2 separate regions of the Homo sapiens genome follow, and region 1 is linked to region 2. The links come from fine-mapping of genetic effects on gene expression. A gene starts in region 2. The other region holds a variant in brackets. All regions are shown on one strand. Distances are between the middles of the regions. Region 1 overlaps LPCAT2 (lysophosphatidylcholine acyltransferase 2). Region 2 holds the start of LPCAT2 (lysophosphatidylcholine acyltransferase 2).

What was found.
Region 1: its variant is fine-mapped to the expression of LPCAT2 in whole blood (TOPMed, PIP 0.94).

What each region holds. Positions count from the first base shown.
Region 1 is chr16:55,532,577-55,540,576 of GRCh38, forward strand. LPCAT2 (lysophosphatidylcholine acyltransferase 2) reads left to right here. Exons shown (of 14, transcript NM_017839.5): 6 at 248-306; 7 at 1,867-1,901; 8 at 5,002-5,056. Among named protein-coding and RNA genes, the nearest start is that of LPCAT2, 28 kb to the left of the region's middle. The variant G/A (reference allele first, on the strand shown) is at 3,737.
Region 2 is chr16:55,504,811-55,512,810 of GRCh38, forward strand. It overlaps LPCAT2 (lysophosphatidylcholine acyltransferase 2), which reads left to right and starts at 4,262. Exons shown (of 14, transcript NM_017839.5): 1 at 4,262-4,542. The coding sequence starts at 4,372. MMP2 (matrix metallopeptidase 2) reads left to right here. Exons shown (of 13, transcript NM_004530.6): 13 at 529-1,881. The coding sequence ends at 632.

The sequences.
Region 1 (8,000 bases), 28 kb after region 2:
AATGAATAAACAAATATTTTAAGTGGCATAGGCACAGCATTTAATATTTTGCTTCAGTAGTTCTTAATTAAAAAAAAAAAATCCCTCATTTTGGTAAGCACTAGGGATTTACCAACATTTAGCAAATGATTTCTGTTACACATACTCTTAAAATATTCAGTCTATTTATACTATTTATTAATTTTCTCTTTATCATAAAACTTTTATTCACATAAAAACACATTATAAACTTTCAATGTGGTTGCAGGAGCCTTCATTCCAGGAGTTCCAGTGCAGCCAGTCCTCCTCAGATACCCAAACAAGCTGGTAAGCACAGTATTTTACCACAGGAAGAATTTCAGTATTCCAAGTAGCACAGATTCTCTGGGACCCCTTTTAATATATAAATAAGGTTGTGAACAGATAAATGGTGGAAGCAAATGGGAGAGCTCATTCTGCTCGCCACATCTAGTTTTTAAAATTTTGCAAGATAGGCACATATCCATTGATACCAATATTAAATATTATTTTGCTATTACTGAACTTCAGGAAGATATTTTCTTAGCCTTTACTCTGTTGTCACCATGTTGGTGTGATTAATTCCCAGATTAGGGTCTCATTAGAATGAATAGTTAAAAATCTGTGATTTTCATTAACTCTAGAAAGAAATTTTTCCTGACTCAGTGGTCATTACTAGTGAAGAAGTATTGAAATAGCAGGATAAATATTAAAGAGGCTTGGTCTTTCATTACTGCCTCAGTACTTACTAATTGTGTGAGCCTTGGTAGTAAGTAACTTAATTAAATAAGAAAATACCTGAGAAAACTTAACATCTTTTTTTGTTTTTCGGGTTTTTTTTTTTTTTTTTTTTTTGAGACAGAGTCTTGCTCTGTCATCAAGGCTGGAGTACAATGGCGTGATCTTGGCTCACTACAACCTCCGCTTCCTGGGTTCAAGTGATTCTCTCCTTTCTCAGCCTCCCGAGTAGTGGGGATTACAGGCATGTGCCACCATGCCCGGCTAATTTTTGAATTTTTAATAGAGACAGGGTTTCACCATGTTGACCAGGCTGGTCTTGAACTCCTGACCTCAAGTAATCCACCTGTCTTGGCCTCCCAAAGTGCTGGGATTACAGGCATGAGCCACTGCATCTGGCCTAGCTTAACATATAAAGTCCAGAGTTGACTCAGGAAGTAGTCTCTTCTGTTCCAGTTGGGTACATTGTTGTCCTCTAAATATTGATTTTACCACCATTTTCCTAAAGAAAGATTTTTGAGGGAATGTTTTGGTTCTGAGAGGAACTTTCTTTACTAGAGAATTTATATTAAAAGCCAGGATATAATTATTAGTTATCTCTACTATTTAATATTAAGGGTTATTGATCAAATCAGTTTTCTATTTAGAGGCTGGTTTTTCAACCTTGGACATCTATGGTTAAAAAAAGAATTAAAATCTATCAAACTTTTATTTGTTGTACTTCTGCCCATAGGTTTGAGTTTATTGTATGTTCATATTATTTTATTTCCCCCAAATAAGCTTTTTTTTGAAAACGGATATATTCTGAGTTTTTTGTAATCAAATTAATTATCCAGATATGTTCATATTAGGAGAAAAGTGGCTAAGCATGTAAAATAGTTTTTAAAAAATTAAAACAAGTCATTTCATCAAAAGTTGTTGACATTAGGAAGATCTTTGCTATGTAGATATGTAATCCAAGAATTCATAGATCAGTTCACTGTTCTTTAACAATAATGTATTTATTTTACTTCTCAACATGTTGCTTTTAATTTCAGAAAAAATACATGAATCCCCATATTAAAATAAGATCTTTATTTTATTTAGTATTTTTCCTCCAGACCAACAGCTAAAATAATTTTGTTATTATAGGATACTGTGACCTGGACATGGCAAGGATATACATTGTAAGTCACTTATGTCTATTATTAGTTTATATAAATTTTATTTTAGTGAAGAAAAAGAAAGATCATTTATTCATTCTTTAAAAAAGTATTATTTTAAAAATATTGTTATATTTAAAAACATAAAGATTTCTGATCAGAGCCCTAAGTCTTATAACTGATAAGTCTCTGTAGAGAGCATCACTATCTTGACCACTAACCCCTGGAGTCTTCTGTGTGCAAAATTCTAGTCATCTGTCCCATTCAAATGGGTCTCAAGTGTTTGCTAGTTCGTAAGTGACCTAGTTTGCATCATAGTTAGCTTTAATTTTGTAGTTTTATTTCCATTGCAGATTTGGCATTATCTAGTGTCTCTATCCTTACTTACTATGTTGGTTTAAGCCATTCAGAAAAATTTAGTCATATGGCCTGAAATAGCTATGATGTGTCTGATATGAGTTGAAAAAATAGCTAACCAAGATTTCAGTTCTGCTCTTGGATTTGAAAAGCATTGGAATCAGCAGTTTCTATAAGCACTTTACTTAAGAGAGAAGAGGAATACAGTTTCATTATTAAGCAAGCTGATGTGAAGTAGGCCTTTAAAAAGAACAGAACATGTAGAAACTTGGTTTCTCTCAAGATCGTTTGTTTAGTTCCCTCTGAATAAGTCTGAGCCTGTTTAAATTTTGGTGAGAGCCGTATGAAATACCTGAATTTGAAGACTTCCTTTAGGGTCTTACCCAGTTTTCATATTGTTAAGCACAAAGCTCAGATAACATTGTTGATGGGTAGGTGACAATAACTTGGAAATATTTAAGGAAATCATCAGTTGCCTTAAGCACATTGTAGGCTTTTTTAGATAACTTCAACGTAATCCAACCAACTTCTGAAATCAAAACTGCATAATTTCTCCATTTTGTGTATATATACATTGCTTTGAAATAATAAATTTAAATCAGAATAGGTAACTGATGAGACAGTAGAATAAATATTAACACATATGAAACACTTATATTCTTGTTATGCTTCAGTCCTTGATAATTGAAGATACACAAATAACGCCAAACATAAAGAACATAAATTGTAAAGGATATCTAAACAGCATATTATCTTTCACTTACCAGGAAATCAATTTATTCATTTGACTAAAATACATGTTTCATGCCATTACTTATTTTGAATTCCTGATTGCTTTTAGACATGGAAGAATTGGGAGAAACAGGTAGTATGAAAGTATTTGGGAAAACGAAGTGCCTTAACAATGGATGCATAGCATACTTCCACTTTCTGAGGTGTGCCATCCTTTGGGCCTTTACAGGTTAAGTTCCTTACAGAGATAGTGATGTGGCCAATAGGACTTTTTTTGGTTGCCCAGCAGTCCAGGTTAATGTGATGATCAAATAGGAGAAAGCTTTTCTGGAAGAGGAACTGGGGATAGAAAATATAATAGACGGGTTTAGTTAATCTAGCCTTCTCAACTGAGAAGTATGTGAGAAGAGGAAAAGGAAATTAGGAGAAAGAATTCAGGAATGAAAGGGAGAAAAAATATTTTGAGAGTCAAAAATTTTTCAGGACTTTTAAACAAACACAAAATCTTTGAAAGGCACAGCTTTGTTTTGTTCAATCTATTGCAAATCTCACGTCCACTTTTGTCTTCTCATCTACTTAATATTATTAGCACTGTGTCTGTTACTTCTAAATCTGTTTTCTCAATTGCCCTTGCTCAAAGTGCTACTCCAGTTACAGATTCTAAGAAACAGATTTTATACCAAAACGAATATCCCAAGGAAAAGGAGACTTGGAATAAACTTAGAGAAGTTTTGTATCAGACTAAGAAGTATTTGGTCTGTCTGTAGGGT[G/A]GACAAGACAGGTTAAATGAGATTTTATGTGTGGTTTCATATTTTTCACAGTATTCAGAATTTTCAGAATAGAATGCATCTATTCAAGTAATTGAATTCCACAGCTCCATTTAAATAATTAAAAACAACTTATGCTAGATAGTGTGGATTGACTTTAGAGTTTATAGATAGTAAAAGATTTTTTTCTTTCAAATGGAAGATTTGTGAACTGACACATTAACAATTTATAATTAATTATGAAAGTGATATATCTACTTTCTAAATTATTTCTTTTAACTAAATTCTTAAGCTCCTACATTCCTTAAATAAGTTCCCTCAGGTAATTTTTACAGATAAATTATGTTTTAATTTCTTAACAGTGAAAAGAGATTGGTTGGTTCTTTTTTTAAATGTGTAGTTTAATCCATTCTGCCTGGTTTCTGGGTCAATTGTCTAATGAGACTAAACTAAAAATCCAGTAGAAGTCTTATCCAGAGAGTCTAAATATGTACTGGAAAGCTATAAGTAGGAACAACTATTTCAAACATTATCTTTTAGAGGGTTGCTTAACCACTTTAAAGACAGCATTTGCCTGCCTTTACAATGAAATTTGAAGCTTTTCAGATTTCCTCATAACTAAAACATTTATTAATAACTGGGACAATTTTGATAAAGCTTCCACTTTTAAGGAAAGGCCCATTGATTTTTTTTAATGTCAAAAAACAGTTCAGAAATGTAATGATCTACCTAGGAGTTTTATAAACACATTTACATACCTTAAAATGTGGCCTTGGGTAGTTTCTCTAGAGACTTGGGCCTTTGAGTCTGTGTTGTCAAGGAAACTTCAAATTTGTGGTTTAGTCTGTTGAGCTGAGGCTCTGACTGAAATACATATTTGGTATTCATTTGATGATTTAACTTTTGAATAATAATTGTCAAGAATACTTGTCTAAGCCGGGCACAGTGGCTCACACCTGTAGTCTCAGCTACTTGGGAGGCTGAGGTGGGAGGATCACCTGAGCCCAGGAGGTTGAGGCTGCAGTGAGCCGTGATTATGCCACTGTACTCCAGACTGGGTGACGGAGTAAGACCCTGTCCCCAAAAAAAAAAAAAAGAATAGTTGTCTAGGCCCAAAAAGTGTTATAGCTGCAGTGTAGCATTTATAAATGCAAAATATATGTGAAGTGTGATGTGAGGGTATTTGTGTATAAAGAAATGATTGTTGAATAATATAAGATGATACTTGCATGACTGTATAAAGATAGACTTTTCTTTTTTCTCTTCAGCATTCAGCTTTGTATGCTTACTTTCTGCCAGCTCTTCACAAAGGTAGAAGTTGAGGTAAGTCATTCAAAATGTGGCCTTGGAACTTGAGATTTGGCCTTTCCTTTAATTTTGAACCTCTAGTCTAGAGAGACCAGATATAAAGGTCCATCACCAGGTGTTTTACAAATTGTGTATATAAACCTAGGCTGTCAGATTTAGCCCTTGAAATCATGTTAGAAAACACCTCTAGATTCTGGGAACTTGAAACATGTAACCACCCTGGCTGGCCAGAGGGGCATCACCTTGCTCTCATCTTTTTACTCCTTTAATGCTGACCTCTGCCAAATTGAATGATATATTTTCACATCCTGACAAAAGGAACTGACCATAGCTGATAGAGCCCCACACCTCCTTAAAGAAAATGTTTTGTGAAAGCTAAGAGATGCTACTTGGGGTCTAGGGGAGAGACATAGAGGTCAGAAGCCTTCACTGTGAAATCACCCTGCACATGAAAAGCCCAAGGAAATTCTATCTGGGAGGCAGCACATATCATCATCCACAGGACAGTCTTTTGGTTTGAATTACAGTGGCAGGTAGTGAGAGAGGAGTTATTACAACATTCTGAAAATTTTGACCAGGTTTTTAAGGCTCTAAAGGTTGGTTCTAGAGCTGTTCTTAGTTTCTAGATATGATGTAGAGTAGAACCCTGAATTCAGCATCCAGTCGGTTTTAGCAGTACCCTCAGGTAGTCTCCGAAGAGAGATGGTTTGATAATGGGTCTCCTAGATTTTCTAATTGCATCCATGGATTGTGTAACGAAAACCTTAAGTTTGCCTGTGTCATGCAGAGTTCTGAGTGGGGTCTAGTGCCTAAGTGACAGGACTGTGGAATTTAATTCACAAGAATACTATTTTGCTTTGCTAGATAGCTTAGTGATTTGGCCATTTAGAGACTGTCAGTAATACCAAATGATTTAGGAGGGCAAATTACATTTCAGAATGAGTTTTGTGAAATTTTCTTGAGATTTGCATGTTTTCTGCCTGTCTTGAAAATATCTGTTTATTAATTATATTTCATACACCCCCACTTTTAAAACCAGTTCAGTTATCTCTCACTGTGGCCAAAAAAAAAAAAAAAAAAAAAAAAGAAAACCCACACTTGTTCTTGGGTTTTTCTTAGAGGTTCCTGGGGAACAAAAACTAATTTAATAACATTTGGAAGTATCAAGGGAAACAAAATGAATTTTTTTTTTCTCAAGACTACTCAGTGCCTTTGAAATGTCTGACTTACAGAACCTTTTTCTCTAGATATCTCCCGGAACCAGTGTTCTATAGAATACACTTCAGGAAGCCTTATATCATAATATTTCTAAATACTCTGAGCACTGCTCTTGCTTCTTTAATAGCTGCTCAGGTAGTCTAGGCCTGTTTCACTTTTCTAAAAAAACAAGAAAACTCATACTTTAAAAAAGCCATGCTATCTTCTCTGCAAGATATTGTCTCTTCCTCTCAATGTACCCCTCTGTAGCTAAAACAAGATCTAGCAACACATGTAGAAATGTATACAAAGCTGTCTTTTTTGCCATAGCATGTCAGTGGTCAAACTGCATTACAACAGAGGTATTCAGATTCCTCTTTTTTTTTTTGTCATGACCATTATTACCACATTTCCTTTCTGTGTCATGGCTTTCTTTTTTTTTTTCTGTCTTTTTTTTTTTTAATTACGATATTTGCATTCTCCAGCCAGTTCTGAGACCTGTTTGGATCATATTTTTCTGGCAAAGAAAACAATGTATTCTTTGTTCCATAACTTCACAAATAAAATGACTTTCAGCTGCTTGAAAATAGCCGCGTCGACAGAGATTTGATGAATTAGAATCGTAGTGCAGAACAAGAGGATGGGAATTTGTGGACTTCAAATTTAGTACAAATATTCTTATTTTAATTATGTTTACTTTAAATTTATGACTCCCCCTTTCACCCAGGTGACTCCTAAATACTTTATGATATTTTAATATTTTAATACTCACTGTTGGATTTAACTGAAAATGTATCCCAGCAGCCCTTCAGGCACTAAGTATACCACACCCTGGCTTGAAGCTCTGTAAGAGCTGGGCCATCTCTGAGGCTCCAGCTTTTCCACTACGTCTGCTGAGGCCCAGCTTGAGATTGGTTTGTGGTCTCAGTACATTTAGTTGCTCCAGTTTCAATTGTCTTGGTTGTTCTCAAGTAACCCCCTTTTTTCTTTTTTTTTAAATTGATGGAAATCCTTGTTACTATCTTATTTTAAACATGTTTTTAGAACTTCTTGAATATTAGGTAAACCTAATTCAAGATATATTATTCAAGAATATGGTATTAATTTTATGGTTTTTCAAATGAACTTTGAATGAATTATCAAAGTGCCGTTTTAGACAGTCTTGCTTTTGTGAGTCACATGACACCCCATTATGTTGGCTGCCATATCCTTTAGTTTCACAAGTCTCCCCTCAGTAATCATGACTACCAAAGTCTTTAATTACCAAAATCATTAGATATCTAAGATATAATGAGTCTAATATTTAGGAATATTTTCTTACCACCTCTTCCCAGCCCTCTCTGCTTCCCAACATAGAGACATACAGTATTTTTGAAAAGGTTATTATTTTCTCGACTCTTGGATCTTAAAAATATAGTTAGTTCTAAACCTCATGTCCTGTGTAATTGTTCTTCTGGCATCCTTGAACAATGATGAAGTTGTCTGTCTACAGAATGGTTCTACTAAAAGTTATTCTTTGAATTCTAATGTGGCATAATGGGTGTTCTTAAAGTATCTTTTAGTCATACTTTTATTAACCAGCTGTTTCACAAGTATCCCTTTATAAGGATATGGCTTAGGGCATAGGGAATGAAATAGCTAGTAGGAAACATTACAAAATGTGACATGAATTAAGAGTCTGTTAGTTTATCTCATGAGAGAGAATACATGCTATGTCACACTATAAAGCACTAAGTGGGCCGCAGCTAGTTTATGAATGGAA
Region 2 (8,000 bases):
CCCGGCTAATTTTTTGTATTTTTAGTAGAGACGAGGTTTCACCATGTTAGCCAGGATGGTCTTGATCTCCTGACTTCGTGATCTGCCCGTCTCGGCCTCCCAAAGTGCTGGGATTACAGGCGTGAGCCACCGCGCCCCGCCACAGTTGAGTTTTTTTTTTGGCGGGGGGACAAGGTCTTGCTCTATCACCCAGGCTAGAGGCACAATCATAGCTCACTGCAGCCTCGAACTCCTGGGCTTAAGCGACCCTCCCACGTCAGCCTCCTAAGTAGCTTGGACTACAGGAATGTACCACTATACCCAGCTAATTTAAATATGTTTTTCGTAGAAATGGGGGTCTCTCTATGCTGCCCAAGCTGGTCTCGAACTCCTGGGCTCAAGCAATCCTCCTGCCTCAGCCTTTCAAAGCTCTCTTCTCGTTTAAAAGCTTCTTCCCTATGCCAGGCAGAAATTCAAAGTTCCCAGGAACCTTCTGTGTGCCAGAATGTCAGGATAAGGGGGTCACGGTCTCTTCTTTCTCTATCCCAGGTCACAGCTACTTCTTCAAGGGTGCCTATTACCTGAAGCTGGAGAACCAAAGTCTGAAGAGCGTGAAGTTTGGAAGCATCAAATCCGACTGGCTAGGCTGCTGAGCTGGCCCTGGCTCCCACAGGCCCTTCCTCTCCACTGCCTTCGATACACCGGGCCTGGAGAACTAGAGAAGGACCCGGAGGGGCCTGGCAGCCGTGCCTTCAGCTCTACAGCTAATCAGCATTCTCACTCCTACCTGGTAATTTAAGATTCCAGAGAGTGGCTCCTCCCGGTGCCCAAGAATAGATGCTGACTGTACTCCTCCCAGGCGCCCCTTCCCCCTCCAATCCCACCAACCCTCAGAGCCACCCCTAAAGAGATACTTTGATATTTTCAACGCAGCCCTGCTTTGGGCTGCCCTGGTGCTGCCACACTTCAGGCTCTTCTCCTTTCACAACCTTCTGTGGCTCACAGAACCCTTGGAGCCAATGGAGACTGTCTCAAGAGGGCACTGGTGGCCCGACAGCCTGGCACAGGGCAGTGGGACAGGGCATGGCCAGGTGGCCACTCCAGACCCCTGGCTTTTCACTGCTGGCTGCCTTAGAACCTTTCTTACATTAGCAGTTTGCTTTGTATGCACTTTGTTTTTTTCTTTGGGTCTTGTTTTTTTTTTCCACTTAGAAATTGCATTTCCTGACAGAAGGACTCAGGTTGTCTGAAGTCACTGCACAGTGCATCTCAGCCCACATAGTGATGGTTCCCCTGTTCACTCTACTTAGCATGTCCCTACCGAGTCTCTTCTCCACTGGATGGAGGAAAACCAAGCCGTGGCTTCCCGCTCAGCCCTCCCTGCCCCTCCCTTCAACCATTCCCCATGGGAAATGTCAACAAGTATGAATAAAGACACCTACTGAGTGGCCGTGTTTGCCATCTGTTTTAGCAGAGCCTAGACAAGGGCCACAGACCCAGCCAGAAGCGGAAACTTAAAAAGTCCGAATCTCTGCTCCCTGCAGGGCACAGGTGATGGTGTCTGCTGGAAAGGTCAGAGCTTCCAAAGTAAACAGCAAGAGAACCTCAGGGAGAGTAAGCTCTAGTCCCTCTGTCCTGTAGAAAGAGCCCTGAAGAATCAGCAATTTTGTTGCTTTATTGTGGCATCTGTTCGAGGTTTGCTTCCTCTTTAAGTCTGTTTCTTCATTAGCAATCATATCAGTTTTAATGCTACTACTAACAATGAACAGTAACAATAATATCCCCCTCAATTAATAGAGTGCTTTCTATGTGCAAGGCACTTTTCACGTGTCACCTATTTTAACCTTTCCAACCACATAAATAAAAAAGGCCATTATTAGTTGAATCTTATTGATGAAGAGACTGATGGCTCAAGAGAAGTGATTTTTCCAGGGTCCCATAGCTATTAGGGACCTACAAGGCCAAAGGATAGCCTAGCAGAGGAGCTTTAGCTCTCAAACCAGAATCTCACCACCCTCCGCCACCCTCAAAAACACCCCCACCACCTTCAAAACCGCTCCTGCTACCCTCCACCACCCCCAAAACCACGCTGGGTAAACACAGCTAAGGGAGAAATACTGTGCTTGCTTCTAAACACAGCTGGTATTAATGGATAAGCTCCTTACTCCTTCCTACCAGTCTACCCACTCCTAATCTCCTACATAGAAATTCTGGAGCTACTGCTGAACAGAAATTGAAGGCCTGGGGTTTTTCTGAGGCCCTTTCTGGCTCCGATAGTCTGATTGATAGTATATATATTGCTTCTGGCCTCTTATGATGGGGCTGGTGAGGAAGGTGCGTAAGGAGTGAACTCTACAGGTGACCTCCTCAGTGAGCCTGATGTCATTGTTTCTATCTCTTTTTTCTGTTTTTGAGATGGAGTCTCACTCTGTCACCCAGGCTGGAGTGCAATGGCGCAATCTCGGCTCACTGTAACCTCTGCCTCCCAGGTTTAAGTGATTCTCCTGCCTCAGCCTCCCAAGTAGCTGGGATTACAGGTGCACGCCACCATACCCAGCTAATTTGTTTTGTATTTTGGTAGAGACAGGTATCACCGTGTTGCCCAGGCTGGTCTCGAACTCCTGAGATCAGGCAATCCACCCATCTCGGCCTCCCAAAGTGCTAGGATTATTGGTGTGAGCCACCACTCTCGGCCCCATCTTTTCTATCTTTTATCCTCCCATGGCCTGTCCCCTTGACTCAGATTCTTTTTGTTTCTTCTTCTTCTTTTTTTTTCTTTTTTGAGACAGTGTCTTTCTCTGTCACCCAGGCTGGAGTGCAATGGCATGATCATAGCTCACTGCAGACTTGATCTTCTGGGCTCAAGCAATCCTCCCACTTCAGCCTCCTGAGTAGCTGGGACTGCAGGCATGCAACAGCACAGCCAGCTAATTTTTAATTTTTTTTAGAGATGGTGGAGTCTCTCTTTGTTGCCCAGGCTGGTCTCGAACTCCTGGGCTCAAGGGATCCACCCTCCTCAGCCCCCAAAGTGCTAGGATTACAGGCGTGAGCCACTGCACCTGGCCTGGCTTAGGTTGTTGACAGTTGGAAAGACATCTTTCTGTGCAGGTATCTGGCTAAAGAGTCTCAAGGGTCTGCCAGTCCCAACTTGAAGACCCCCTAGACTGGGGAATCTTCTATCATGGCTGTAATGCACTGTTATTAATGTTCCCTGTTACACTGAGAGAAAAGTCAGTGGCTCCACAACATAATAATGCTTAAAACATGCCATTTCTTCAGTGTTTCTCTATGAACACTACACATGCATTATTTTATTTAATCCTTGCTACAATTCTATGGAGTTAGAATGAATCTCCCATTCCTAGACAAGGAAGCAAACTCAGGTTAAGTGACTGACTCAAGGCCACACATCTATGTGGTAGGGCTGGAAGATTCTGACATTCAGAGGGTAACTTTGGAGAACCCCAGGGCTCAGACTCAGATTTTCATCCTGGCCTTCCTACCTGCTGTGAGAAGAGTTGATCAGTTGGGATGAGTTGATTATCATCTCCTTCCTTTAACTCTCAGCCACTCAGGGTTGATCAACTGTCCTCAGATAATGGGACAAACCCCTGCCCTCCCACCCCCACGAGCACCCACATAGGTCCAAACAGGCTTGAACTTCCTCAGTGTGAAAGGGAGCCACAGCCCAATACATTTCCCTTTTCTGGGTCAGGTTCCTCATCTAGCGTGGAGGGCAACTGTAATTTTTGCCTTTTCTGGTAATAGTAGCTCAGTTTTCCTCTGGAGAACCATCTCTCCCCTGTCAGTCCATTATGTTTTGAGTGAAACAAATTCCACTCCTAGTGCCATCATGGGTGTATTAATATTAGCTCACTTAATGGAACAGCCCAGGGGAAGTGGTTGCTCAATGGCATTACTGGATCCAGGTTAGGATTATCTGAGAATACATTTATCTGCATTTTACGGAAGGCAACCGAGGTTCATAGAGATAGTGATTTGGCCAGCGTCACAGGCCCAGTAAAAGGGATTGAAAATCCAGGTCCGTCCGACCCTAAAGCAGGGAACTCTGCCTAGTGTCTCGCTGTGGAATGTTAGGGATCCTGGGGTACCCTTCAGGGTCTTGGCTCGGAAGGAAAACATTCCCCTCCGAGGGGATGGACTATATTACCAAGGGGGTGGAGCCAGATGCCTGAGGGGGTGTGGCCAGAGCCTGGGGCGTGTCACAGCCGAAGGGGCAGGGCGGCAGCAGCAGGCGTCTAAGTAACTTCAGCGCCTGCGCAGAGGCTCCCCAGCGTCGCCCTAGGCTGGGACTCTAGTAGGTCTTCGGCTCAGTTTTGGCTGCAGCGCCCGCGTAGATCGCTTCGGCCGGGTTCTACGCCCGGCTCAACTATGAGCCGGTGCGCCCAGGCGGCGGAAGTGGCGGCCACAGTGCCAGGTGCCGGCGTCGGGAACGTGGGGCTGCGGCCGCCCATGGTGCCCCGTCAGGCGTCCTTCTTCCCGCCGCCGGTGCCGAACCCCTTCGTGCAGCAGACGCAGATCGGCTCCGCGAGGCGGGTCCAGGTGAGGGGCGTGGGTCTGAGGGGAGAGGTGGTCTGAGGGGGGCCTAGGTCAGAGGGGGGTCCAGGTAAGGGGTGTGGGTCTGAGAGAGGAGGGCGGCCGAGGGGGGCGTGGGTCTGAGGGAGTGAGGTGGTCCGAGGCGGGCGAGAGTCTGAGGAGGGAGGTGGCCTGAAGGGGGCATGGGTCTGAGGAGGGAGGTGGCCCGAGGGGAGCCAGGGTCTGGGGCGGGTCCAGGTGACTGGTGTAGGTCTGACGGGGGAGGGCGGTCGAGGGGCGCGTGGGTCTGAGGGGCGTTGTGGGTCTGGGAAGCAAAGGCATCAGAGGAAGAAAGAGCAGTGGATCTGAGAGGAGAGGACTTCTGAGGGGCCGTGAGCCTGAAAGGGGCGGAGATGTGTGTCTGAGAATTGAGGACATTTAGAGGATGGTCTGAGCGGGCACGGGAGGAGAGAAGATGCTGGGAAGATGCGGGCCTGAGAGGAGAATCCAAAACAGGAAGAGACTGAGCTGGCTGGTGGCGCAGGCTACATTCCATGCCCCAGAAGGTTGAAGGAATCTGTGAATCTGTGACAGAAGCTTCAACTTGAGTTTATGAGAGTGTAGTGGGAGGCAGATCTACTACGGGAGAGTAGATTTGAAGAAGTCTTTTTTTTTTTTTTTTTGCCTTAGGAAGGAGAGGAGTCAGTATGGGATGGATAAGAGTGAGGCAGAAGGCAGAGAGCCTAGGTCTGTGGTTAGAACAACAGGTAAGGCTGGAAAGATTTAGCTGAGCAGGAGCATGATGGAGGGTGGGAAGTCAGAATCAAAGAAAAGGGACAACTGAGTCAGCTTAGGATGTTCAAGAAGTTTTGGTCCAGAATCAGTCTTCACCTAAAAACGTTTCCTAAGTTGAAGCATGAGAAGTAGTAGCCCAGGCTGTTTTCCATTGTTAAAAATGGCTATACTGTTATGCACAAAGGAAGTTTCCTTTCCTTTCCTTTTTCTTGTAAAGGGTTCCTTTTACCATTGGCAGTTGCACTCTTTGGACTTCCTCTTTGTTGAAGTTAGTGATCAGAGAACAAGATAGACCCTGCTAACCACATTTGTCCGTGTGTTCTGCGGGGGTTGGGGGGGTGGGGGAACAATTTTGAAGTTTTCATGTCCATCTCACACATTACTTTGGATTTGAAGCAGTATAATATTTGCAATCAGCTTGTATGCACTAAGACCATTGTCCTCTACAGTGGGGGAAGGTTAAGTGCAGAGCTAAACAACACAGGTGGTGGCTTGAGTAATGGTAGATGGGTGTCTGGTTGAAGAGGGGTGTGAGAGAGGAAGAAGATAAAGAATGTAGTAATACTGCTTTGTGAGGAAATTAAACGTTTAAAAATGTGATCCTCATGTCTTTAAATTAATAGATATTCTTTTTGTGTCTTCACATTCTGAAACATTTGTAAATACATAGACCATTGTTCAAGATTAAATTTAGTCTGATTTAATTAAATCATACTTAAATGAAAATATGCCCATCTATTTGACTTCATATTTTGGAAAGAAACAGCATGGAATGTTGACAAATATTTATATTGCACCTATAATAAATTATTAAGTTTTTCCATCACCTGGTTTGTTACTGTTTAAAGATCTCTTCCAAATAACTCTCTGAGAGTTATAGTATAATGGAATGATAGCTAGTCAGTTATAGGAACTGGTCATTTATTAGTTGTATGACTTTGGCCAAGTCACTTAACCTCTCTGAACTATACTTTTCTCGTCTATTACATTGGAATATTAATAACTCAAAGGAGGGCTACAATTAAGTGAAATAATCTGTTATTGTTTGTTGATCTTAATATTGATAATATTGATAGTTATCCTATATATTTTCTACAAAGTATATACTGTACTTAAAATTTACTACTTGGATTAAATGGGATTTAACAAAGTCTGGATATTAAAAATACTTTTTAAATTTATATAGATCAGAGATACAAGAGGTTTCAGTGGCTTGAATCATCTGGGTAAAGGGAAGATTTGAATAGGCATGGTAGAAAAACAATGTCCATATTATCCAGTTTAAAAGGTGGACACACTTTCATTTAAGTATGACTTAGTATGATTAATTTAGACTAAGTTTAATCTTAAATGATGATCAATGTCTTGCTTAAGGACTGTTGTCCTCACATTTCACTAAGATAGTTAAACAAACAAGTACAAAAATATATAATCTCATGTTTTAGTAAGTGTAATGAAGGAAAACCAGAGAATAACACTGAGAGAAGGCCACCCAATGGAGATGACATATTACCAAATGGAAATATGATGAATTCTCTTAATTTGTCAATGAGTTAACTCAAAATTGATTTACTGTTAGACACTATTATTTGTTGCAAACCTTGAAGATGGCACAGAAAAAAAAGTTGCCTAATATTTTGCAACTTGTTCAATTAAAATCCATATGGGTTGCTCAGTGTAGACATGAGTGACTCTTATGCTAATATACTTTAAACTCATTCCAACTCTTTCTTCAGGGTCTATGCTATATGGTCCTTTCTTTCAGTCAAGATTATTGCTTGTTTTTTAATAATGATACCTCTTTGAAGAGAATCTCAGCCAGTGACCTACCAGAGTGACTTGGGAATTTGAGTCGTCTCATCTTCTCCACAGTACTCTTCCCCAGTATACCACCATACTTCATTGCACCACCATTCAAATAAATATAACATTAGCTAAAAATAGTGTGCTTACCATGTACACAGAGCTTCAAGAAAAATCTCCTGGATCCAAGATCCCTTCTATATTATAGTTCTGAAACTCCTACTCATCTTACCTAATACGTATTCTGTTTTATAGGAAATAAGACTGATAGCATAAGTTTCATTATATTTGTAAGTCAGTTTTCAAGTGAATAATAATAATTTAACAGGACTAGTTTTAGTCTCAGGAATGGTGGAGTAGCTCAATGTAGACAATGTAGACAAACAATTATAAACCCTAGTCAAAATATGAAAAACTACACGAAGGCACTATAGAGCAACACAAATCAGACAGAAACTGGAGGGATTTGTTTCTTGAAATAATACTTCTATACTGTGTAACATTACCCCAGCCCCTTTTTTTCCCTGAAGGTTATCACTTGACACCACATGAAGGGATTGCTAGAAAGCCTCAGCCTTATTGATTGACATGATATATCAGAGCACAAAGTTCAAGACTATCAAAGTGACTAAAAATCGAAGGTGGAAGTCCCAGAAAGGAGGAAACTAGAAATGAGGGAGCCCCTAAATTGGCATATAAATGATCTCAAAACCTTGGCCGATTCCTGAGCTGTGTATTTACAAAGGAGCCTTCAAGGACTCTGGAGGAAAGTAACAGCTGGAAGGAAGAAGAAACTGAGCAGACATTTCAACTGATAGACACCACAGGGAAGGCACAGTTAGAATCCCACCAATTAAGGGGGCCTTGGCAAACATCTCAGGCTTTAC